3 linked regions of the Homo sapiens genome follow. The protein of the gene in region 1 interacts with the protein of each later gene in a biochemical or structural test. Each region holds a gene or a part of one and is shown on either strand. Other genes may lie near its edges. The genes, in order: CDYL, LIG1 and REST.

Region 1 (9,327 bases):
CACCATGTTGGCCAGGCTGGTCTGGAACTCCTGAGCTCAGGTGATCCACCTGCCTTGGCCTCCTAAAGTTTTGGGATTACAGGCGTCAGCCACCACGTCCAGCTGAGTGTTTGCACTTTGAACAAGTCCCAAGGTGATGCCGTTGCTGCTAGTTTGGGGAACCACACTTTGAGAACTTCTACACTAGACAATACTAGTGATTGAAAAAAAATCAAGCCCCACTAAGCGCCTCCAAGTGCTGGTCTGGCCCCAATCTTCCAACTCATTTACACTTTGCTTTAGATTCAACATCCACCTGCTCCTGGGATAATTCTGGGTTCCCCCACTTCTGGTGGGTCTTGTGTTTCTATTTTCCTTACCAGTCAAAATGTCCACACTCATCTCTTGCCTAGTTGTTCTCTCTCTCTCTTTCTCTCTCTGTCTAGAAATGGAAAGGTAAAGACGATACTGGGATGGTCTGACTTGAGAGACAAATGCAATTAATCATCACAATAATTCAAGGGAAAGTTAAACAGTACTTGCTGTTTTTTTCCAGGGATCCAAAATGAGTTAGTTACTGCCTTGGCATAAAGTCAACCAAAATTATGGGAATACCTGTGCCTATTTCCTCTTTATGATTTTTGGTCTTTTTGCTTTCCAAAAATGGGGTAATGTATAAAATTATCAATGAAAAACTTCCTTGCTCTTGCTCATTACTTTAATCAAAAAAAGTTCAACAAGTACATATTACAAGGATTCTCTTGGTAGAACACCATTAGCTAAATAGAAAAAGGAACCGTACTTAAACACTAAATCTAGTTGAAAAAGCAAATGATCCTTAATTGTAGATTGATGAGCTCCGGCCAGTGATGGTATCACAGCCTAAGATGAAATTGGTGAAATCAAATGTTAAGAGGTCTCAGAATTGGCATCACGAGGGCAAAGAGATGAAACAACTAGTGATATCTGGCCAAGGAGCAGCAGTGTGGCAGCTGGCTACTGGCTTCTATATGAAAGAGAGAAATGGTACCTACCTGGGACCAACATGGAGGGCGGCAGGGAGAGGCTGCCCCTCGAAATGGGGAAACTGACTGTTTGGGCAGGGAAGGCAACAGTGACTGAAAAAAGGAATCAGCTGTTATTGGTTGACCAGAAAAAGGTACTGGTATCCACTCTAAGCTTTTAGGGAAGGAAGAACTGGTTGGCTCCCAGTTCAGACAAGGCCCCTAACATCTGAATTAATCTTATAAATGGTTCTGTATGCTTCTTTCTTTTGGGTCTCAGGTTTAAAATGTTCTTTCTTTTGAGTGGGTGATTGAGATGGAAATTCCACCAAGTTTTCTGGAGTAGATACTCTATGACAAGAACGGCATTTAATTTCCCTTCAGCCACTGTGGGTTTAAAACCAACAAACTTAGGTCGCATCTTCATAAAAATCACAATTAAATTTTGGGTTATGGAGGAGGTAACCAGGATAGAATATGCTTTGGGGGTACAAAACTGTTGAAGGGAATCATTATCAGTAGCTTTTCACAGCTACCCAACCATAAAACGCCTTTGGCTCTGAGAATAGTAGTAGCTAGATTTTGGCTTCTTTTGTTTTTTTCTGTCCCATCCCCCATCTCCCCTTGGATGCCTTTGGATTCAAATGTAGATGAAATGCAGATTCTTGGGAGAAAGGAAGACATGCCTGGTTTGGCTGGTGATTGGGAAAAGAGGAGGATCTCAGATTTCAGGTTTTAGTTATCATTCTCCCGAGATGGGAAGAGGCTGTGATTCTTGATCTGAAGAGTCTTATCGTCGGTAGAACTTGCCATCGATGATCAATTGTTTGGATTTGAGGAGGAGAGAATTGAATTATGTTGGCCTACAACAACGGGAGCAGGTCAGGTAAGAATCGTTTATTGCTGGTAGACGTGTCTTTTAATCATGTGTGTATATCGTCTCTCTTGTTGACCACTTCTCTAATCTTTTAAGAGTCATATGTCTTACTAGTGCATGGTATTGTGCTGTATGTATTTTTGCTGCAATCTTCCCGGTGTGCTTAGGGGATGTGATTTCACTTTTATTCTTAAGCCACTGAGAAAATAATAGCACCCACACACGTGGTCATGGAAACTACAGAACTTCACTGTTTCATAAAAGGTGGTGGAAATTCCAAGTCATTAAATAATCTTGGGCATATTTACTTCTGCTATGAGTGCTGGTAAAATGTTTATATAAAAAAGTGACGGAGGAAAGCAAAGTTTGCTTAAAAGTAAGACAAATTGAACGAATGAGGTTAAAATATATATGTATATATAAGCAAAATAGCATTCCATAAATCAGTGAGTTTTAAATGGAGGGCAGATGAAAGGAACAAAGTGGACAATTGAGAACTTCCTCAATTTCTCAGTCGCTAGGTGGATACCCATCTCCTTCGCCAGTGGAAGCCAACTGTCAGAGTGGAGAGGTGGTTGGAACTTAGGAGTATGGCTCACTCCTGCTTTGTTTTAGAGGCTACTGGTGGTTACTCTTAATGTTGTAGACTAAGGATAGCAGCATAAACATTCCAGATTGTCAAGATTGAAAAGCTACGTAAATTGACAAAGGTCTATGTAAATTGACATTTTTGAGTTGCCTTTTTGAGGCTATAATTCTTCCCCTTTTTGTTTCCACAATGGGGAAAATCGCCTTACTAGCTCAATATCTGGATATGTTTGTTGTGGATGTCTATGTTCCTTTCTTTCCCTCTCCTGGGCAACAATGGCAGTTTTGGAGACTCCTTGGAGACCACAGTACCATTACGCACATGGTGGAGCCCCTTGTGAATGCCTAAGCTTGTGGATGTTCTGAAGGGGGCAATAATTGGAGTAATGGTCATGGCGAGAAGTGCTTGTATTTGTATTGGTCCATCATTGCATAATAGGCTTATATGTTATATGTATCTATTTCCTATTGAGGATCTCTTTTTTACAGTTGATTTTTCTTGAGGGATTTTAAACTATCACCTGCCAGTATTTGAGCGCTTGCCGAAGTGTGCACTCAATGCTTTGAGATTTCCCAAATGTATAAAATCCTAGTCCTTGCCTTCAAGGAACTTACAACTTTTGTTGATAAATTGGTAAACCTAGAGAGAAGGCAACAATGAAATGCAGCATATAATGGAAATGCTAAGTGAGAGGAAAGAGGCGCTGTTTGGAGGAGGGAGAGGGAATTGGCTGGGCCATCAGGGAAAGAGGCAGAGCTTGAGGCGCCTTGACCAGTTGATGAAGTGGTGGCTTTAATTTGCGATTCTTGTGCAAACATTTGATAATGGGAATTGGATGTGTAGGTATTGGGCTTTCTCGTGGACACTGAAATTCCATTCATTGAACAACACCTTATTTCCTGTATAGAGAATGGTGCTAGGGGCCAGCGTCAAATTTGAAGATGAAGTCTGACTGAAGGTCATCGTTTGGAGTTGGGGTGGGGTGAAGAGTAGACAAACCTTAAAATACAGAGACGAGTGCTGCAGTGAGCACGCGTGAGTGCTTAGGCAGCGCTTGAAGAGGGAGTTACCGATTTGGCCCTGGAAGTCAGGAAGGCTATCCTTTTAAGGTGATCCCTGAGCTGGGAGTTTGTTTCAAACGGTGGGGACCGCAGGTAGAAGCACCGCTTAAGGGGAACGGCGATTCGACTCGCAGTGACTTAAGGGTTGGCGTGGTGCTTGTTCCTGGGCGTGGGGAGGACAGGAAACCGCGGGGTCTGTGAGACGCCCCGTGGTTGTTGAAACGCTGTTGGGGGGCACAAACGAATAGGGCTTTAGGAAGAAAACTGGTGGGAGGAGCCTTGTGGCTCCAAGGTAGGTTAGGAACTGGAGCGAGATGGAGCACGGAGGAGTGAGGCGGCCCGAAGGATGCCCGGGGAGACATGGAGGAACTGGCGAGGGCTTCCCGATGCAGGGCCTGGGGGAGAGGGTGAACTAATGCCTCTGCAGTGCCCCGTGGGGAAGTTCCGCATACTCGGCCAGAGTGATCGGAGTTGGCGGCTGTCTGGGGGAGTTGGGTCAGGAAGCCCCTTCTTTCGCCACCGATGGGGCACGTCCAGGGCCCGGCAGGTGTGCCCTGGCAGTAGATCTTCCCTGGGAAGTGGAGCGCGGGCCAGCCCTCGCTGTTCTGAGCGAGGGCCTGTCGTGTAGTCCACACCGTTCCGCGAAAGGAACCACCATTGACAGCCTCGTTCGATTAGAACCCGGACCTCCCTGGAATCCAGACTCGGTCCCTTCCCAGCTGCGCTTCGGAGGAGGCGGACGCTCCGAGAGGAACCCAGAGGCCTGGCGTGGGGGGAGCTGCGGGCAGAGCGGAGGCAGCCGCGCCCTCGCGCCGCCCTCCGCCGCGCCCGGCTCCCGCCCCCCGGATCCCACCCCCGGCCTGCCGCGGAGCCAGCGTGCCAGCCGGAGCTCGCCGGGCCACCCCGCGGGGCGCGCGGCCCGGGCTCCGGGTCTTGGCGGCGGCCGGTGGGGCGGGCATGGGGTGGGGTGGGTGCTCCACCTGGCCACGCCGCCGGCCCTTCGCGGGCTGGCCCGGCCCCGGACGGGCGGGCGCACGGAGGCCGCCTCTTGGGCTCCTCCTGGAGGGAGGCGCGCGGTAGACGGCGCGGCCGCTGCCGTCGGGGCGGTGGGCTCCAGACGCGGGCCGGCTCGCTCGCATGGTTCCCTGCCCCATCTCGGGTCCGTCGCTGCCCGTCCTGGTGTGCACAACCGCGCTGCGCCTCGAACCTCGAGGTCCAGGTCCCGCCTGCCCTGGGCCGGGCCGCAAGCGCCCACGTCGAGGCGGGCTGGGGGGCGGTGCCGCGGGCCAGGCCGACCCCGCAAGCGGGACTGGGGAAGTCGGAGCCCCGCCCACCACCCCGCCCCCCGCGCTCGCGGCCCCGCCCCCGACTGCCCCGCTCCTCCCCTTCCTGCCGGCTCGCTCCCGGCCCCGCCGGCCGCCCGCCTCGGCCCCGAGCGGAGCCCACTGCTCCCCTCGGCTGCCCCGCCCCGCCGCCGCCCCGCCCCTCCCGCGCGGGCGGCCCGAAAACCCGGAGCGCGGGAGCGCGGCTCCGCAGGGCCGGGCGGCCGCACTGGGCATGCTCAGTAGCCGGGGCAGGTTTTTTGGTCGCAAGTAGGAAGCTTTCTGCACTACACCGGAGAGGGGAGCCGCGATCCGGCCGCGCCGCCCGCACGCCGCCGCGCCCGCCCCAGCCCGCCCGGCCCCGCGGCGGGGCGCGATGAGCCCGAGCGCGAGCCGGCCCGCCGGGGAGTGAGCGCGGGGCGCCCAGGGCGCGTTGCGTAGCTGCTCCTGCGCACAACCCCGCCGCGCCGCCGGCCCGCACTGGCCGCGGAGTGCAAGAGGCTCGTCCGTGCCCAGCGCCCGGCCGGCCGCGGGAGCAGGAAGCGCAGGCCACGCAGGACCCAACTGAAACAAAGTGTCGGCCGCCCGGCGCCGGCGCCCGCCCCGACCCTGCCCCTCCCGCCCGCAACTCCGCCGCCCACCATGGCTTCCGAGGAGCTGTACGAGGTACCTCCCCTCCCCCCGGCCTCGGGCCGCCCCCCGCCCGCCGCCCCTCCCGGCCCGGCCGCGCCGCCCGACGGCCCCGCTCGCCGCCCGCGCCCGCCGCGTCCCCTCCCCCGCCGCGGCCGCAGTTTGCTGGACGGGAAATGTGTGTGAGGGGAGCCCGAGCCTCCGTTCCGAGGGGCCCCGGCCGGGGGGTCCTGAAGTTGCCGGGCGTGGGGTGGGGGGGGGGGTCCCAGCCGTGGGGAAGTGGTGCTGACACAAGTGACTTGCTCGGACTGAGCTCAAAGTGCTCTTGGCGTGGGTCGTGGAAGTGGTGCCTCCGTTGCCGCTCGGCGGGGACCGTGGGCGGTACGGGGGGTGGGGTGTGGGGGGGTTTCTGGATCATTTGATAAAGCATTTGGGAGAGGGTTTTGCCCCTGGTCGGGGGGTGGCGGGGAGAAGACCGGTGCAAACGCTTTCGACTTTGCTGTTCGCCAAAGCGATGCAAAATCTCGCACCGAAAATGCTAAACGTTGACCACATGCTTTAATTAGGTTAGCATTGTGGCCAGAGCCAGGAAATTTAAATTTAACGCTGATACACCGTCATTCATTTGCGCCGCAGCGTTGCAAATGAGAAGGGCATAGCCAGAACTGTAAGTTCTGGTCGATGGGTTTAAACCAGCTTCAAGTTTGAGAGTTACCAATTTGGATCTTTAGACATGTTTTGTATGTCTCCATGTAACTTCTTTTGACGTATTTCAAAGTAGACTTCCTGGGAGTACAGAAGTTTGGAAGGCTTTCTGTTCTTCTGGATAAATGATTCTCTTGTTTCACATGTATTTATAAATAAGTTCCTAAGAGACTTAAAACTTGCGAAGACTCTCTAGACTCACCTTTATGATGCGTTTAGGGACCTGGGTGTTGAGGGACTTAAGGAAGCATCTGTAACAAGTAGAGCCCTGTGGCCCCAGGGATCCTTTCAGTTGTCTTCTCTTATGGGCGTATTATTGCTGTTGGCATAGAATAGAGCTTTGTTGTCTGCGATGTTAGTCTTCTAGCAACTTTTTTGTTGCTTTTTAAGAGCAAGTGTTTGCAGAAGTTCTCAGGAGGAAGCTGCCATCTGTAGAATTAAGGGTAAGGTTGTTGCTTCTCCTTACATTGTATGTGGTCAGTATACCTTAGCTGGTACTGAAAATGTTCCATTCTTTTCAACCATTTTACACATTAGCTGTGCCCCGCTGTATTCAGGATACTATTTTAGGTCATTTGGGGATGTAAAAGAAGAAAAATCTCCCTGTTCTCAGGAGCTTTCCTTCTAGGAAGGAAAGTGTTGTGTGTCTGGAAGACACAGAAATGGAGGCTAGGATGTTTGAGGTTGAGGTCTTCCAGGTGAAGTCTGTACAGGGGGAAGTACATAGCATGAGGGTATGGGGGATTTTAGTTTCTACATTAGATCATTCTTTGGTTGTTTAGTCATGAGTGTTCACTCTTGGCATTTGCTTTTATGAGTATGATTACATAATCAGTTCCATCAGTGGATGAGAGTAGCACCTTATACGTAAGTTGTATCCTATGTGTGTAAGAATGATTCTGAAGACAGCACATTTCCCATTAGTATATTATGAACTAAGTTTAGTTCCTTCTGTGCTTATTCTATATCTTCAGGTTTCTGTTCCTAACAGAAGTTATTAATGAGTAACATTTTGTACTAAGTTTGTGTTCATTTAACGTTTATTGAATGCTTGCCATATGGAGGTTTCATGGGGAAATACTGAGGTGTGAGAATGGTTCATGCTTTCAAGGAGTGTCTGTTGGGGAGGAAGTAAGTATATTGCAAATAAATGATACACCTGCACAATTGAACTTTTGATTCTGAGTTTTATTTTAGTTTTGGAAAAAAAGGTATTATAGAAGTATAGTTCAGGTGATAAATTTAAGTATGTGTAGTAAATATGTAGTGGTCAGTATCTTTCAAGGCAAAATTTGTAACTTTTCTTTTACTTGTAGGCAACACTGTGACTATGTTACCATTGAAAGTTGACATTGAAAGTTTTGCATGGCAGTTGAGAGCCTAGATTTGGAGTCAGACAACCCAGTTAGTGACTTCCAACTCTATCACCTTGGGTAAATTAGCCTTGAAAGCTCAGTTTCCTCATCTGTGAAATTGGGATCAGTGTTTCCCTTATAGAGCTATGAAGTTTACATGAGAACATATGTAAAGCCCACCCTAAAATTCCCATGGCAAGCACCCAGTAAGTGATGATGATTGTATGGTAACTGGCTTAAAATGCCTCCCTGAAACCTGGTTTTGTTTCTAAAGGTATAGAGTTGTATTGTTTTCATAAAGGCAGTATTATCTGTAGGGCAGAAGTGATACGCAATTGTAAATGAACGCGATAGTCTGACAAGGCTGGGAAAGACACTAAGATGATGTTTTGTGGCCAAGTCAAGGGTTGTTAGTTGCCTTGTTTTGTCCAGTTCTGCCTAAACTGAAATAGAAGTTTTCTGTTTGGCCTCAGGCTCCACAAATCTAGAGGGATATATTGACAGGAGGAAATGTGAAGTCTTGCTTCTTTGAACTCACATGGTCTGGTAGGAGGACAGGTCTGCAGTAACTGGGAACTTGGGTGAGTTACCCAACTGCTGAGCCTTGGTTTTCTCGCCTAAAAGAAATGTCTCCAATACTTAGCATGGAACCTGGTATGTAGTAATAGGTCTTTAGTAAATGTTTAAATGGCTATTGAAACTAGGCTTTGTGAACAAAAAATAAAGGAACAGATCCTGGAAAAGATGGGTAGAGCATGAACCTTGCAAAATTTGAAGAGTTACTATTAGTTGAAGGATGGAATAGATTTACTCCCTACTTTTCCAGCTGCTAGGATTGAGGAAAAACGGATTTTTGATGCGGCGTAGGTTAGAACTTCATAGTTTTCACAAAAAGACAAGCGTCCTTTACATCACGCTTCTAATGTAAAGGGCCAGATAATACATATTTTAGACTTGTGGGTTATATTATGGTCTTTGTTGCAACCACTCAGCTCACCTCATGTAGTGCAAAAGCAGTCGTAGACTCCTATATGAATGTGCGCTGTGTCTCAAACTGCTTATGGATAGTAAAATTCACTTAGTATATTTCATATCATTTTATGTGTCATGAAATACACATTTGTGTTTTTTTTCCAATCACTTACAAATGTAAAAATGATTCCTAACTTGTAGGTTCCACAAAAATAGGCAGTGGGCTGGCTTTGCCCTGTAGGTTGTTGTTTGTTAAGCCCTGCTGTAGGTGATCAACTGTCATAGTCTGTTTAGGAATCTGGGTTTACTCAAGGGTTGGGGATGTATGGAAGTTAGACGGTATTTCTAACTTTCATCCCAGCTCTAGACTTAGAGCTGGAAGATCTGGGTGGTAATCCTCCCTCCTTTCCTCCTTCCTTTCCTTTCTTTCTTTCTCTTTTTTTTTTTCAAGAGTCTTGCTCTATCTCCCAGGCTGATGTGCAGTGGCTTCATGTTGTCAGCTCACTACAACCTCTGCCTCCCGGGTTCAAAGCTATTCTCATGCCTCAGCCTCCTGAGTGGCTGGGATTACAGACGTGCACCACCCCCGCCTACGCCCCCCCCCCCCCGCCCCCGCCCCCGCCCCGGCTAATGTTTTGTATTTTTAGTAGAGACAGGGTTTCACCTTGTGGGCCAGGCTGGTCTCAAACTCCTGGTCTCAAGTGATCCGCCCACCTTGGCCTCCCAAAGTGCTGGGATTACAGGCATGAGTCACTGCACCCGGCCTTCCCTTGTTCTTAGAAGCTTGTTAAGTAACTCATCTTGTACTTGTCTTAACTATCCTAAACTTTCTC
Region 2 (5,619 bases), on another chromosome or scaffold:
AAGTGCTGGGCCTGTGGCTGGCTGAGCCTCTGACCTCCCGCTTCCTCCCTGCAGCTTGGAACTGGCTTCAGTGATGAGGAGCTGGAGGAGCATCACCAGAGCCTCAAGGTGAGCCATGGCGGCTGCGCCTCAGCCTCCACCCCTCTCCCCCCTGCCCCTGACAGCACAGTCCTTCCATGCAGGGCTCTTGGCTTCCACCATCTTGGGGCTCCAGGTGTGGGCAGGAGGGCAGCAGGCAGTGGAGCTGGCTTTGGAGTCCAGCATCTCCAGGTTCATGTCTCAGCACTGCCGGCTACTAGCTGGTGACCCTGCTCAAGCAGCCTCACCTCCCCAAGCCCTGTGCCTCATTCACACCAGGGGTTAGCCAAAGGACACAGCAGGTGCCATAGCTGCTCCTTGTGAAGTGCCTGTGAGCCCTGATCAATGTGAATGAATGTTGTCATGGTCACAGGCATTTCAGGCATGAGTGTCTGTCCTACATATTGGATCTGTATTAGTTTATTTTCATACTCATACTGCTATGAAGAAATAACCCAAGACTTGCCGGGCGTGGTGGCGCATGCCTGTGGTCCCAGCTACTTGGGAGGCTGAGGCAGAAGAATTGCTTGAACCCAGGATGCAGAGGTTGCAGTGAGCTGAAATCATGCCATTGCACTCCAGCCTGGGAAACAGAGTGAGACTCTGTCTCAAAAAAAAAAAAAAAAAAAAAAGGATCATTTATAAAGAGAGGTTTCCTGGACTCACAGTTCCACACGGCTGGGGAGGCCTCACAGTCATGGCAGAAGGCGAAAGAGGAGCAAAGGCACATCTTACATGGCGCCAGGCAAGAGAGCGTGTGCAGGGGAACTGCCCTTTATAAAGCCGTCAGATCTCGTGAGACTTCCTCACTATCACGAGAACAGCACGGGAAAAACCTGCCCCCATCGTTCAGTTACCTCCCACCAGGTCCCTCCACGACACATGGGGATTTTGGGAGCTATGATTCAAGACAAGATGTGGGTGGGGACACACGGACCCTGACACCATCTCTGTCCCACTCTTTGGTTCTCTCTCTCCATTGCCCTCTCTCTCTACATCTCTGTCCCTGTCCCACTGTGTCTCTGTCTCCTTCCTCCAGGTCTCTGGCCCTTTCTCTGCCTCTTTTTGTCTTTAATGTCCTGCCTCAGCCCCCAGGGCCTTTCATTTCTTTCCATCTCCCATTCCTCCCAACTCCCACCTTTCTCAACTTTTTACTTCAAGGGGGTCTTGTTTCTTTTCCCTTCTTTCACTTTCTGTTTCTCTTTCTATTTCTGTTTACTTCAAGGGGGTGTCTTGTTTCTTTTCCCTTATTTCACTTCCTATTTCTGTTTACTTCAAGGGGGTGCCTGTTTTTTTCCCTTCCTCCCTCTCCCCAGCCCTCCAACACTTGGCCTTGACTTTGAGATTCCAGACCCTCTGTTCCTCTCTTCCTCTGCTCACTGCAGGCGCTGGTGCTGCCCAGCCCACGCCCTTACGTGCGGATAGATGGCGCTGTGATTCCCGACCACTGGCTGGACCCCAGCGCTGTGTGGGAGGTGAAGTGCGCTGACCTCTCCCTCTCTCCCATCTACCCTGCTGCGCGGGGCCTGGTGAGTGGCAGAGGACCTGGCCGTGGCCCTGTGTGGGATTCTGGGCGGGCACACAGAGAGCAGAGTAGGGAGGGGACCTTGGCTCACATCTGCTCTTCCAGGTAAGGATCAGGAAGATGAGCTTGCATTTTATTTGAGTGTCAGATAAAAAGATCAAAACATTTTTTCTTTAAAAATGGGCCGGGCATGGGGGCTCGTGCCTGTAATCCCAGCACTTTGGGAGACCGAGGCAGGCAGATCACTTGAGGTCAGGAGTTCAAGGCCAGCCTGGCCAACATGGTGAAACCCCATCTCTACCAAAAATACAAAAATTAGCCATGTGTGATGGCGGGTGCCTGTAGTCCCAGCTACCCAGGAGGCTGAGGCAGGAGAATCGCTTGAACCTGGGAGGCGGAGGTTGCAGTGAGCCGAGATCACACCACTGTACTCCATCCTGGGTGACAAAGCAAGACTCTGTCTCAAAAAAAGAAAAGAAAATTCTTTTCTTAAATAAAAGAATTCCCAGGGCAAGCACAGTGGCTCATGCCTGTAATCCCAGCACTTTGGGAGGCCGAGGCAGGCAGATCACTTGAGGTCAGGAGTTCAAGACCAGCCTGACCAACACGGTGAAACCCCACCTCTACCAAAAAATAGAAAAATTAGCTGGGTATGGTGACCCGTGCCTGTAGAGACGGGGTTTCACCATGTTGACTAGGCTGGTCACAAACACCTGGCCTCAATCCGCCCACCTCGGCCTCCCAAAGTGCTGGGATTACAGGTGTGGGCCACCATGCCCAGCCAAGAACTTACATTTTTGATCTAATTTTTAAAAATGTTTTACCATGCTGCACGTTAGACAGCCAGGGACCCTTAGTAACAAGGCACAGGAGCCGGTGTGTATCCAGCCCTTGCTGTGCAGTGGGCACTGTGTGGTCATCAGCGTGTCACTCATAGACACTCATTTAATCCTCTCAAAATCCGTAAGACGTAGTGACACAAACATCTCCATTTTACGGTGAGGATGTAGAGCCCTAGAGAGCCTGAGTAACTGCCCCTGCATCACGCGGCTCCTGAGAGTTGGGAGCTGGGATTGGAATCCCACAGTCAGATTCTAGAACCCATACCCTGGCGCCGTAGTTCAGCCTCTCAGCCCGAATTACCGTCATTATCGTAACGGCTGTAGCAGGTGGCATTTTTTTTTTTTTTTTTTTGAGTTGGAGTCTCGCTCTGTCACCCAGGCTGGAGTACAGTGGCGCAATCTCAGCTCACTGCAAGCTCCCCACCTCCCGGATTCACGCCATTCTCCTGCCTCAGCTTCCTGAGTAGCTGGGACTACAGGCGCCCGCCACCACACCTGGCTAATTTCTTTTTGTATTTTTAGTAGAGGCGGGGTTTCACCGTGTTAGCCAGGATAGTCTCCATCTCCTGACCTCGTGATCCACCCGCCTCGGCCTCCCAAAGTGCTGGGATTACAGGGGTGAGCCACCGCACCCGGCCAACAGGCAGCATTTCTTGAGCACTTACTGTGCCCGGGTACTGTTCCAAGCACTTTGTCAACTTGTTTAATCCTTATGACAACCCATCGTTCGGCCCCGTCATGTGGATCAGGAAACAGTCCAGAGTGGAGGAGGGAGGAGACTGAGCAGGGGGTCGCTGGGGCTGGACCGCAGGAGTCTCCATCCCGCTTCCGCAGGTGGATAGTGACAAGGGCATCTCCCTTCGCTTCCCTCGGTTTATTCGAGTCCGTGAAGACAAGCAGCCGGAGCAGGCCACCACCAGTGCTCAGGTGAGGTCCTGGGAAGCAGGGGTGGGCCGCCCAGCTGCTTGGCCCTACCAGCTTTTTAGCGTGGTGGCCTCTCTGGAACCTTGTGGAGGTGGGAGCAGCCAGGGAGCTTCTGACCACCCCGTCCCACCCTCTCTCCGCAGGTGGCCTGTTTGTACCGGAAGCAAAGTCAGATTCAGAACCAACAAGGCGAGGACTCAGGCTCTGACCCTGAAGATACCTACTAAGCCCTCGCCCTCCTAGGGCCTGGGTACAGGGCATGAGTTGGACGGACCCCAGGGTTATTATTGCCTTTGCTTTTTAGCAAATCTGCTGTGGCAGGCTGTGGATTTTGAGAGTCAGGGGAGGGGTGTGTGTGTGAGGGGGTGGCTTACTCCGGAGTCTGGGATTCATCCCGTCATTTCTTTCAATAAATAATTATTGGATAGCTACTTTGTGACAGGGTCTGTGCTGGGCTCTGGGGGCAAAGCTGTCATGGGTGTCACCTGCATAGCATGTAGCCATGTAGCCATGGCCTAGGAACTGCCAGAGCCAGTGCCAGCCATGGAACTGCCTGCAGTGGTGGGCGTCTTCTCTATCTGCTCTGTGCAGTGTGACCGCCACTGGCCACCTGCAATGCCCGAGCCCTTGACAGGTGGCCAGCATGACAGAGGATGCGAATTTGTTTTGTTTTGTTTTGTTTTGATTTTGTTTTGAGACAGAGTCTCGCTCTGTTGCCCAGGCTGGAGTGCGATGATGAGATCTCAGCTCACTGCAACCTCCACCTTCCGGGTTCAAGTGATTCTCTTGCCTCAGCCTCCCATGTAGCTGGGATTACAGGAATGTGACACCACGCCTGGCTAATTTTTGTATTTTTAGTAGAGATGGGGTTTCGCCATGTTGGCCAGGCTGATCTTGAACTCTTGGCCTCAAGCGATCCACCCTCCTCAGCCCCCCTAAGTGCTGGGATTACAGGCGTGAGCCACCACACCCAGCCATACCAAATATTTTATTTAATTGTATTGGACAGCAGTAGTCTAAAATCTTTACATACATATATTTTTTAACTTGTTTAACCTTCCAGCCATCCCACAGGGAGGCACCATCGTGAGCCCTGTTAAGGAAGACAAATGCAGTGTCTTAAAATAACACAGATGTATTCCCTAAACAGTTTCGGAGGTCAGAAGTTCAAAATCAGTTTTACTGGGCTAACATCAAAGTGGTGGCAGGGCCGGTTCCTTCTGGGAGCTCCAGGAGAGAAACTGTGTCCTTTTTCCAGCTTCCAGAGGCCACCTGGTTCCTAGGCTCATGGCTTCTTCCTCCGTCCTCAAAGCCAGCAGCATCGCACCTGCAAATCTCTCTCCTGAGGTCATCAGGTCACGTCCTCTCCTCCATCAGATCTCTGTTTCTCTCTTCCAAGTACTCAAGTGGTTACATTTAGGGCCCCCTGGATGATCCAGGATAATCTCATTTCAGGATCCTAACTCAATCCCAAAGTCCCTTTAGTCACATAAGATCACACATTCACAGAGGCCAGGCACAGTGGCTCACGCCTTGGGGAGGACTTGGGGAGGCTGAGGTGGGAGGATCACTTGAAGCCAGGAGTTCAAGACTAGCTTGTCCAACACAGCCAGACTTCATCTCCTCTAATTTTATTAATAAAATTAATAAAAATGTAAAAGGGCCAGGCGCGGTGGCTCACGCATGTAATCCCAGCACTTTGGGAGGCTGAGGCAGGTGGATCACCTGAGGTCAGGAGTTCGAGACCAGCCTGGCCAACATGGCAAAACCCCGTCTCTACTAAAAATACAAAAATTAGCTGGGCATGGTGGCGCGTGCCTGTAATCCCAGCTACTAGTGGGGTGAGGCAGGAGGATCACTTGAATCTGGGAGACAGGTTGCAGTGACCCGAGATCGTGCCACTGCATTCCAGCCTGGGCGACAGAGCGAGACTCCATCTCAAAAAAAAAAAAAAAATAGGTCACATCAAAGGTTTCAGCGATTAAGACCTGGATATCTATGGGGGCTGTTATTATTGCAGCCACCCCACATGGGATGATATGTTAGAGGAAAACCATCGGGAAATGGTCAGACAAGGCAAGCAGGATGCCTGGAACACCCACCCAGCCCTGGGCACCACGGGGCTGGCTTGGGGAAAACGGCTGCACGCGGAGCGGGGCCCAGGCTCGGGTCTTCCAGAGCAGGAGGCCTCTAACCCCGGGGCCCAGCGTGGAACAGGAGCTTCCGGGCATGAGAGTGTCAGGGTGTCCT
Region 3 (9,219 bases), on another chromosome or scaffold:
CATCCTCTTGCCTCAGTCTCCTGAGTCGCTAGGTCTACTGGCACATGCCACCACTCCAGCTAATTGGGGACTATTATTATTATTATTATTTTTGAGACAGTTTCGCTCTTGTCACCCAGCTAGAGTACAATGGTGCGATCTCGGCTCACTGCAACTTCTACCTCCCGGGTTCAAGCTATAGAATCTTCCTCAGCCTCCTGTGTAGCTGAAATTACAGGCACCCGCCACCATGCCTGGCTGATTTTTGTATTTTTAGTAGAGGTGTTGATCCACCCACCTCAGCCTCCCAAAGTGCTGGAATTACAGGCATGAGTCACCGCGCCTGGCTGGAACTATTATTTTTATTTAAATATCGTATTTATTTATTTATTGAGACTGAGTCTTGCTGTCGCCCAGGCTGGAGTGCAATGGTGCGACCTCGGCTCACTGCAACCTCCACCTCCTAGGTTCAAGCGATTCTCCTGCCTCAGCCTCCCTAGTATCTGGGACTACAGGCTCGTGCCACCATGCCAGGCTAATTTTTTGTATTTTTAGTAGAGACGGGGTTTCACCATGTTAGCCAGGATAGTCTTGATCTCCTGACCTCATGATCTGCCCGCCTCAGCCTCCCAAAGTGCTGGGATTACAGGCGTGAGCCACCACACCCGGCCAATATCCTATTTCTTTCTATGGAGACTGGGTCTTGCTGTGTTGCCCAGGCTGGCCTCAAACTCCTGGCCTCAAGCAGTTCTCTTGTCTCAGCCTCCCAAAGTGTTGGGATTACAGGTTTGAGTCACTGTGCCCAGACAGACATGTTTTATTTTTTTCTGTTGATAACGTTGGTGCCAAGGGACTTTTAAATAGCTGGGATTGTTTGAAAGATATTGTGATGGCTTGAGAGTCTTTGTAGAATAAATTTTAAAAACTATTTTATTGAGATATAATTTATAAATTTAAAAATGCACAGGTCTTGAGTGTACAGCTCAGTGACTATGCTTTCACCTATTTGATTATCACTCAAGAACAAGAGATGGAATATTTCTGCTCAGAAACACCTTGCCCTTTCCACCCAGTCTTTCCCCTGGATGATATTCTGTCTCCTACCAAAGAACATTATAGAATTTGTTTGTTTGAGGTGGGATCTCACTCTGTCACTCAGGGTGGAGTGCAGTGGGTGCAGTTACAGCTGTCTAAACCTCTTGGGCTCAGGCAGTCCTGCCACCTTAACCTCCCAAGTAGCTGGGACCACAGGTGTGCGCTACCATGCCTGTTTTTTTTTTTTCTTTCTTTTTTGTAGAGATGGAGTCTTACTATGTTGGCCCAGGCTGGTTTTGAACTCCTGGGCTCAAGCGATCCACTTGCCTCACCCTACCAAAGTGCTAGGAGTACAGGCATGAGCCACTGCACCTAGTTTTAGAACATTCTTTTATAAAATGTTCTTGAGATTTATCCATGTTGCGTTATTGGACTTCATTTTATTGCTGGTAATGTATTGTATGCCGCCATTACTTTTTACTTAAAAATTTTCTTTGCCGGCTATGCACGGTTGTTCACACCTGTAATCCTAGCGCTTTGGGAAACCATGGTGAGCGGATCATCGGAGGTCAGAAGTTCAAGACCAGGCTGGCCAACATGGTGGTACCCCATCTCTGCTAAAATACAAAAATTAGCCTGGCATGATGGCGGGTGCCTGTAATCCCAGCTACTCCGGAGGCTGAGACAGGAGAATCACTTGAACCCGGGAGACGGTGGTTGCAGTGAGCCGAGATTGCGCCATTGCACTCCAGCCTGGGCAGCTGAGCGAGACTCAGTCTCAAAAAAAAAAAAAAAAAAAATTTCTTTGCCATTCTCTCTTGGTTTTTGTTTTGTTTTGTTTTTATTTTTAAGGGAATTAATTTAAAAACTTAAATTGAGAGGCTTGTATTTGTGTATTTTTCACTGCGGCTTTAACCTCCTAGGCTCAAACGATCCTCCCACCTCAGCCTCTGGAGTAGGTGGCACTGTAGGCTTGTGCTATAACATGTGGCTAATTTAAAAATTTTTTTGTACACAGGGTCTCACTAGGTTGCCCAGACTGGTCTCAACCTCCTTAGCTCAAGCAATCTTCCTCACCTCATCCTCCCAAAAGTGCTAGGATTACGGGTGTGAACCACTATGCCTGGCCATTCTTCTAAGAATATTTTTGATACGTATGTGTAAAGCTTGCAGAACTCTTTCCCCTTTTGTCTTGGCTTACACCTATAAATTCATTTCGGAGGCATAAAACAGACAATTGGTAGATTTATAAAGAAGAGAACCTGTTACTAGAATTGGGAAAAAGAATTTAAAATTGTTTGTACAGGGCAAAAGTTAATATTCAGGTAGGTACTAATTAGAAAATCTTGATGAATATATTTTAATATAAGCAAGACTTCATGGCAATAAAGTAAAAATTACGGGAGAAAAAGAACGGAGCAAATAAATCATGCCATCAAATTTTAAACAGAAAATTTCTACATCCTCCCTTTCCGTTCACCATTCCTTAGGTGGACCCTCGCACCTTGATGGATGCATGCTTGCTCTATAGATCTCCTTATTCATCAGAGTTATAAAATGGTGCTATTTTAATTATAGTTATTTTATTAGTGTGTAAATATGAAGAGAAGAGATAAATTCCACTTATCTATTTACTCATGATGTAGGAAAGACAGGATACGTAAGAGTCTTCCCCTTGATTGATCGATTGATTGAGATGGAGTCTCACCCTGTCGTCCAGGCTGGAGTGCAATGGCACGATTTCAGCTCACTGTAACCTCCGCCTCCTGGGTTCAAGTGATTCTCCTGCCTCAGCCTCCCGAGTAGCTGGGATTACAGGCATGCACCACCACGCCTGGCTAAGTTTTTGTATCTTTAGTAGAGATGGGGTTTCACCATATTGGCCAGACTGGTCTCCGGCTCCTGGTCTCCAACTCCTGACCTCTTGATTCGCCTGCCTCGGCTTCCCAAAGTGCTGGGATTACAGGCGTGAGCCACTGCGCCCAGCCTTTTTTATTTATTTATTTTTTTGAGATGGAGTCTTGCTCTGTTGCCCAGGCTGGAGTGCAGTAGTGCGATCTCGGCTCACTGCACCCTCTGCCTCCCGGGTTCAAGGGATTCTCCTGCCTCAGCCTCCCAAGTAGCTGGGACTGTAGGCACGCATCACCACGCCTAGCTAATTTTTTTGTATTTTTACAAAATGCCTCCCCAAATTTTATATTTTTACAAAAATGCCTCCCAAAGTTTTGGGACTACAGGCGTGACCCACCGCGCCCTGCTGAGTCTTCCCTTTTATTTATCCATACTCAAAGTTACCAATTGGTTCCAAAAGTGAACAATTATAGGTAACACATTTTGAGTTCTTGCTGTCTGCTCCATGTTAAGGACTTTACATAGATTAGATTATTTATAGCTCACAACACTTAGAGAGTATTTTATAGATGAAATTGAGGCCGGGCGCGGTGGCTCACGCCTGTAATCCCAGCACTTTGGGAGGCCGAGGAGGGTGGATCACCTGAGATCAGGAGTTCGAGACCAGCCTGATCAACATGGAGAAATGCCGTCTCTACTAAAAATACAAAATTAGCCAGGCTTAGTGGCACATGCCTGTAATCCCAGCTACTAGGGAAGGTGAGGCAGGAGAATCGCTTGAACCTGGGAGGCGGGGGTTGCAGTGAGCCGAGATCGCGCCATTGCACTCCAGACTGGGCAACAAGAGTGAAACTCCATCTCAAGAAAAAAAAAAAAGAAAGAAATTGAACTCTAGAGAGGTTTCAGGACTTTGCTCAAAGTCTCAGAGTGAGCAACTTGCAGAGCTCATGTTTTATCTCCCAGATGGTCTAGCTCTATCTAGAAGTTCTTAGGCCTTATGCTACCTATCTTTCTACATTCTATGTCCACGTATGTTAAAATGTTTGTCTCCATTTAAATCATTCACTGGAGAGAACCAGGTATAGAGTAATGTAGCATGTTGTAGAAACTTGCATATTTGTAAATCTGTTAGTAGACCAACATGGAGAAGAATTGTCCAGTCAGCTGAATATCTAATTTGACTACCTGGATAAGGTGATTATTTTATCACCAGGCATTTTCTAATCATGTAAAACTTAACATCTACATGGTTTTACCTAATGTCTGAGTTTTGCTTTATGAAAATTTTTAGTACAATTTGATATGAATTTGAGAATGTTTGAGATGAATTTTCATAAATGTCAATTTCCGTTTTTCTACTATGCATTCCATTGGACCAGTGGGGTATGGATACCATTTGGTAATATTTACTAGAGTGTGATCTAGATGGGTATGTATTCAGGTAGAATGTATTACTCTTATGCCTTTAATTTGGGGGTGGGGGTTCTGGTTTTTTATGTATCAGTGATTGTGACTTTGCTTATTTTACATACCATATCTATTTGTGTGCCACTTCTCATTACCTAGTTCCTTTATGTATTTTATAGAAAGGTGGGGGGAAAATCAAGAAAGTTTTCTGAATAATTACCTTGGCCTATATTTTTGCTTTAAAATAGCAATGCTAGCGCAGGAAGTTTGCTAAGTGAAAATTTACTCAGCTCTTGCCATGACGGACAGAAGGATTAAATTTCAAGAAAAAGCCTTTGCTCAGACTAAAGCAGAATTTCAAAACTTTTGCACCTAGGATCTGGGAGTATCGCCCAGAGTGAAAGATATTTTTCTCAAGATTTACCATAAGAAATTTAGGGTGGAGGGAGTATGGGAATTTTATTTTATTTTTATTTATTTTTGAGACGAAGTTTCGCTCTTGTCGCCCAGGCTGTAGTGCAGTGGTGCGATCTTGGCTCACTGTAATCTTGCCTTCTGGGTCCAAGCAATTCTCCTTCTTCAGCCTCCTGAGTAGCTGGGATTACAGGCATCTGCCACTACACCCGGCTAATTTTTTGTATTTTTAGTAGAAACAGGGTTTCACCATGTTGGCCAGGCTGGTCTTGAACTCCTGACCTCAGGTGATCCACTGCCTTCGCCTCCCAAAGTGCTGGGATTACAGGTGTGAGCCACCACACCTGGCTGGGAATTTTATTTATTGATGTATTTTTGAGACAGGGCCTTGCCCTGTTGCCCAGGTTGGAGTACAGTAACACATTCACAACTCCATGCTACTTCAGATTCCTGGGCTTAAGTGGTCCTCCCGCCTTTGCCTCCCAAGTAGCTGGGACTGCAGGTGCACTCCACCATGCCTGGCTAATTTTTTTTTTTTTTTCTTTTTGTGAGACAAAGTCTTACTGTCGCCCAGGCTGAAGTGAAGTGGTGGGATCTCAGCTGACTGCAACCTCCGCCTCCTGAGTTAAAGCAATTCTCGTGTCTCAGCCTCCCTAGTAGGTGGGATTACTGGCATGCAACACCACGCCCAGCTAAATTTTTTTATATTTTTAGTAGAGATGGGGTTTTACTATGTTGGCCAGGCTTGCCTTGAACTCCTGACCTCAGGTGATCCACCTGCCTTGGCCTCCCAAAGTGCTGGGATTTACAGGTGTGAGCTACCGCACCTGGCTGGGAATTTTATGTATTGATTTATTTTTGAGACAGGGCCTTGCTCTGTTGCCCAGGTTGGAGTTCAGTAGCACATTCACAACTCACTGCTACTTCAAATTCCTGGGCTTAAGCGGTCCTCCCGCCTTTGCCTCCCGAGTAGCTAGGACTACAGGTGCACTCCACTATGCCTGGCTAATTTTTTTTTTTTTTTTTTCTTTGAGACACAGTCTCGCTGTCACCTAGGCTGGAGTGAAGTAGTGCGATCTCAGCTCACTGCAACCTCTGCCTCCTGGGTTAAAGCAATTCTCGTGTCTCAGCCTCCTGAATAGGTGGGATTACTGGTGTGCAACACCACGCCCAGCTAATTTTTTTTGTATTTTTAGTAGAGATGGGGTTTCACCGTGTTGGCCAGGCTGGTTTCAAACTCCTGGCCTCAAGGTATCCGCCCACCTTGGCCTCCCAAAGTTAATTTTGTTTTGATTTATTTTGCTCAGGTTGTTCTCTAATTCCTGGGCTCAAGCAGTCCTTCTGCCATGGCCTCCCAGAGAGTTGAGGTTATAGTTGTGAGCCACTGCACCTGGCCAGAATTTTATTTTCTACTCCATTAGGCATTTAACTAAACACACAAAAAAATTTTTAAGTTGATAATATTCCTCCAAATTAACATCCAGAGCCCAATTGAACTTTGCCAATATGTGTATGTCTTAAAGAATCTCTGTTCTTTAGTAGTGCTTGAGGACTCTAACTTGAACTTTTTTGAAGCTTGTGGTTAACTGAGATTTATTCCTCTCTTTTGAGAATCAATGTCAAGGGATAGAGAAATGTTATACAAATAAATATGGTAAATGTAAGGTGCATGATACAGCATTTTAAATAGTCTTTGTTGTTACTTTACATATACAGTTCTTTATATTTTAATCTTGAATTTGTCTTAATCTATGTCTTCTCTCATACTTTTGATTTGCCTTCAGGTGAGAAGCCATTTAAATGTGATCAGTGCAGTTATGTGGCCTCTAATCAACATGAAGTAACCCGCCATGCAAGACAGGTTCACAATGGGCCTAAACCTCTTAATTGCCCACACTGTGATTACAAAACAGCAGATAGAAGCAACTTCAAAAAACATGTAGAGCTACATGTGAACCCACGGCAGTTCAATTGCCCTGTATGTGACTATGCAGCTTCCAAGAAGTGTAATCTACAGTATCACTTCAAATCTAAGCATCCTACTTGTCCTAATAAAACAATGGATGTCTCAAAAGTGAAACTAAAGAAAACCAAAAAACGAGAGGCTGACTTGCCTGATAATATTACCAATGAAAAAACAGAAATAGAACAAACAAAAATAAAAGGGGATGTGGCTGGAAAGAAAAATGAAAAGTCCGTCAAAGCAGAGAAAAGAGATGTCTCAAAAGAGAAAAAGCCTTCTAATAATGTGTCAGTGATCCAGGTGACTACCAGAACTCGAAAATCAGTAACAGAGGTGAAAGAGATGGATGTGCATACAGGAAGCAATTCAGAAAAATTCAGTAAAACTAAGAAAAGCAAAAGGAAGCTGGAAGTTGACAGCCATTCTTTACATGGTCCTGTGAATGATGAGGAATCTTCAACAAAAAAGAAAAAGAAGGTAGAAAGCAAATCCAAAAATAATAGTCAGGAAGTGCCAAAGGGTGACAGCAAAGTGGAGGAGAATAAAAAGCAAAATACTTGCATGAAAAAAAGTACAAAGAAGAAAACTCTGAAAAATAAATCAAGTAAGAAAAGCAGTAAGCCTCCTCAGAAGGAACCTGTTGAGAAGGGATCTGCTCAGATGGACCCTCCTCAGATGGGGCCTGCTCCCACAGAGGCGGTTCAGAAGGGGCCCGTTCAGGTGGAGCCGCCACCTCCCATGGAGCATGCTCAGATGGAGGGTGCCCAGATACGGCCTGCTCCTGACGAGCCTGTTCAGATGGAGGTGGTTCAGGAGGGGCCTGCTCAGAAGGAGCTGCTGCCTCCCGTGGAGCCTGCTCAGATGGTGGGTGCCCAAATTGTACTTGCTCACATGGAGCTGCCTCCTCCCATGGAGACTGCTCAGACGGAGGTTGCCCAAATGGGGCCTGCTCCCATGGAACCTGCTCAGATGGAGGTTGCCCAGGTAGAATCTGCTCCCATGCAGGTGGTCCAGAAGGAGCCTGTTCAGATGGAGCTGTCTCCTCCCATGGAGGTGGTCCAGAAGGAGCCTGTTCAGATAGAGCTGTCTCCTCCCATGGAGGTGGTCCAGAAGGAACCTGTTAAGATAGAGCTGTCTCCTCCCATAGAGGTGGTCCAGAAGGAGCCTGTTCAGATGGAGTTGTCTCCTCCCATGGGGGTGGTTCAGAAGGAGCCTGCTCAGAGGGAGCCACCTCCTCCCAGAGAGCCTCCCCTTCACATGGAGCCAATTTCCAAAAAGCCTCCTCTCCGAAAAGATAAAAAGGAAAAGTCTAACATGCAGAGTGAAAGGGCACGGAAGGAGCAAGTCCTTATTGAAGTTGGCTTAGTGCCTGTTAAAGATAGCTGGCTTCTAAAGGAAAGTGTAAGCACAGAGGATCTCTCACCACCATCACCACCACTGCCAAAGGAAAATTTAAGAGAAGAGGCATCAGGAGACCAAAAATTACTCAACACAGGTGAAGGAAATAAAGAAGCCCCTCTTCAGAAAGTAGGAGCAGAAGAGGCAGATGAGAGCCTACCTGGTCTTGCTGCTAATATCAACGAATCTACCCATATTTCATCCTCTGGACAAAACTTGAATACGCCAGAGGGTGAAACTTTAAATGGTAAACATCAGACTGACAGTATAGTTTGTGAAATGAAAATGGACACTGATCAGAACACAAGAGAGAATCTCACTGGTATAAATTCAACAGTTGAAGAACCAGTTTCACCAATGCTTCCCCCTTCAGCAGTAGAAGAACGTGAAGCAGTGTCCAAAACTGCACTGGCATCACCTCCTGCTACAATGGCAGCAAATGAGTCTCAGGAAATTGATGAAGATGAAGGCATCCACAGCCATGAAGGAAGTGACCTAAGTGACAACATGTCAGAGGGTAGTGATGATTCTGGATTGCATGGGGCTCGGCCAGTTCCACAAGAATCTAGCAGAAAAAATGCAAAGGAAGCCTTGGCAGTCAAAGCGGCTAAGGGAGATTTTGTTTGTATCTTCTGTGATCGTTCTTTCAGAAAGGGAAAAGATTACAGCAAACACCTCAATCGCCATTTGGTTAATGTGTACTATCTTGAAGAAGCAGCTCAAGGGCAGGAGTAATGAAACTTTGAACAAGGTTTCAGTTCTTAGTTTGTAAGGTATATTACATTTTATATTCATTTATGATAGCAGACAACCTTTTAAGATTGCTTTAATTAGTATCTGATGTTGATTTTTAAGTGGCATTCTTTTCCTTAGGACTTTTTATGTATACCTGTTGATTGTTGTGTAAATTTTAGTAAATCTAAGAGAGTGTACTAAACCAGCAGGTATCTGTTAGCTTATGTGTTTAATTGAAATTAGAAGGCTAAGATGGTATAACAGCATTTTATTGCTTTGTCCAGCTACAACTTGTCATTTTTTTCTCCATGTCTTATCTTCCTGTTTCACTTTAGTTTATTCTTCGTTTTTTATTGAGATCTATAAAAAATTGGCTTACTTAATAGCAAATTACTTGAAGAATTTGCCTGCTTTATATAAAGTTAGCACTTTAAGAT

The links.
Region 2: the proteins of CDYL (region 1) and LIG1 interact in a test that uses a peptide from one of them, tested with the Homo sapiens proteins (one study listed by BioGRID).
Region 3: the proteins of CDYL (region 1) and REST form a complex in vitro, tested with the Homo sapiens proteins (one study listed by BioGRID).

What each region holds. Positions count from the first base shown.
Region 1 is NC_000006.12:4,771,310-4,780,636, forward strand, and holds the start of CDYL (chromodomain Y-like protein), read left to right. Parts: upstream 1-5,094; 5' UTR 5,095-5,474; coding exon 5,475-5,498; intron 5,499-9,327.
Region 2 is NC_000019.10:48,113,626-48,119,244, reverse strand, and holds the end of LIG1 (DNA ligase 1), read left to right. Parts: intron 1-54; coding exon 55-108; intron 109-1,463; coding exon 1,464-1,607; intron 1,608-3,279; coding exon 3,280-3,372; intron 3,373-3,512; coding exon 3,513-3,596; 3' UTR 3,597-3,800; downstream 3,801-5,619.
Region 3 is NC_000004.12:56,923,371-56,932,589, forward strand, and holds part of REST (RE1-silencing transcription factor), read left to right. Parts: intron 1-6,470; coding exon 6,471-8,782; 3' UTR 8,783-9,219. UniProt on the Homo sapiens protein: Transcriptional repressor which binds neuron-restrictive silencer element (NRSE) and represses neuronal gene transcription in non-neuronal cells.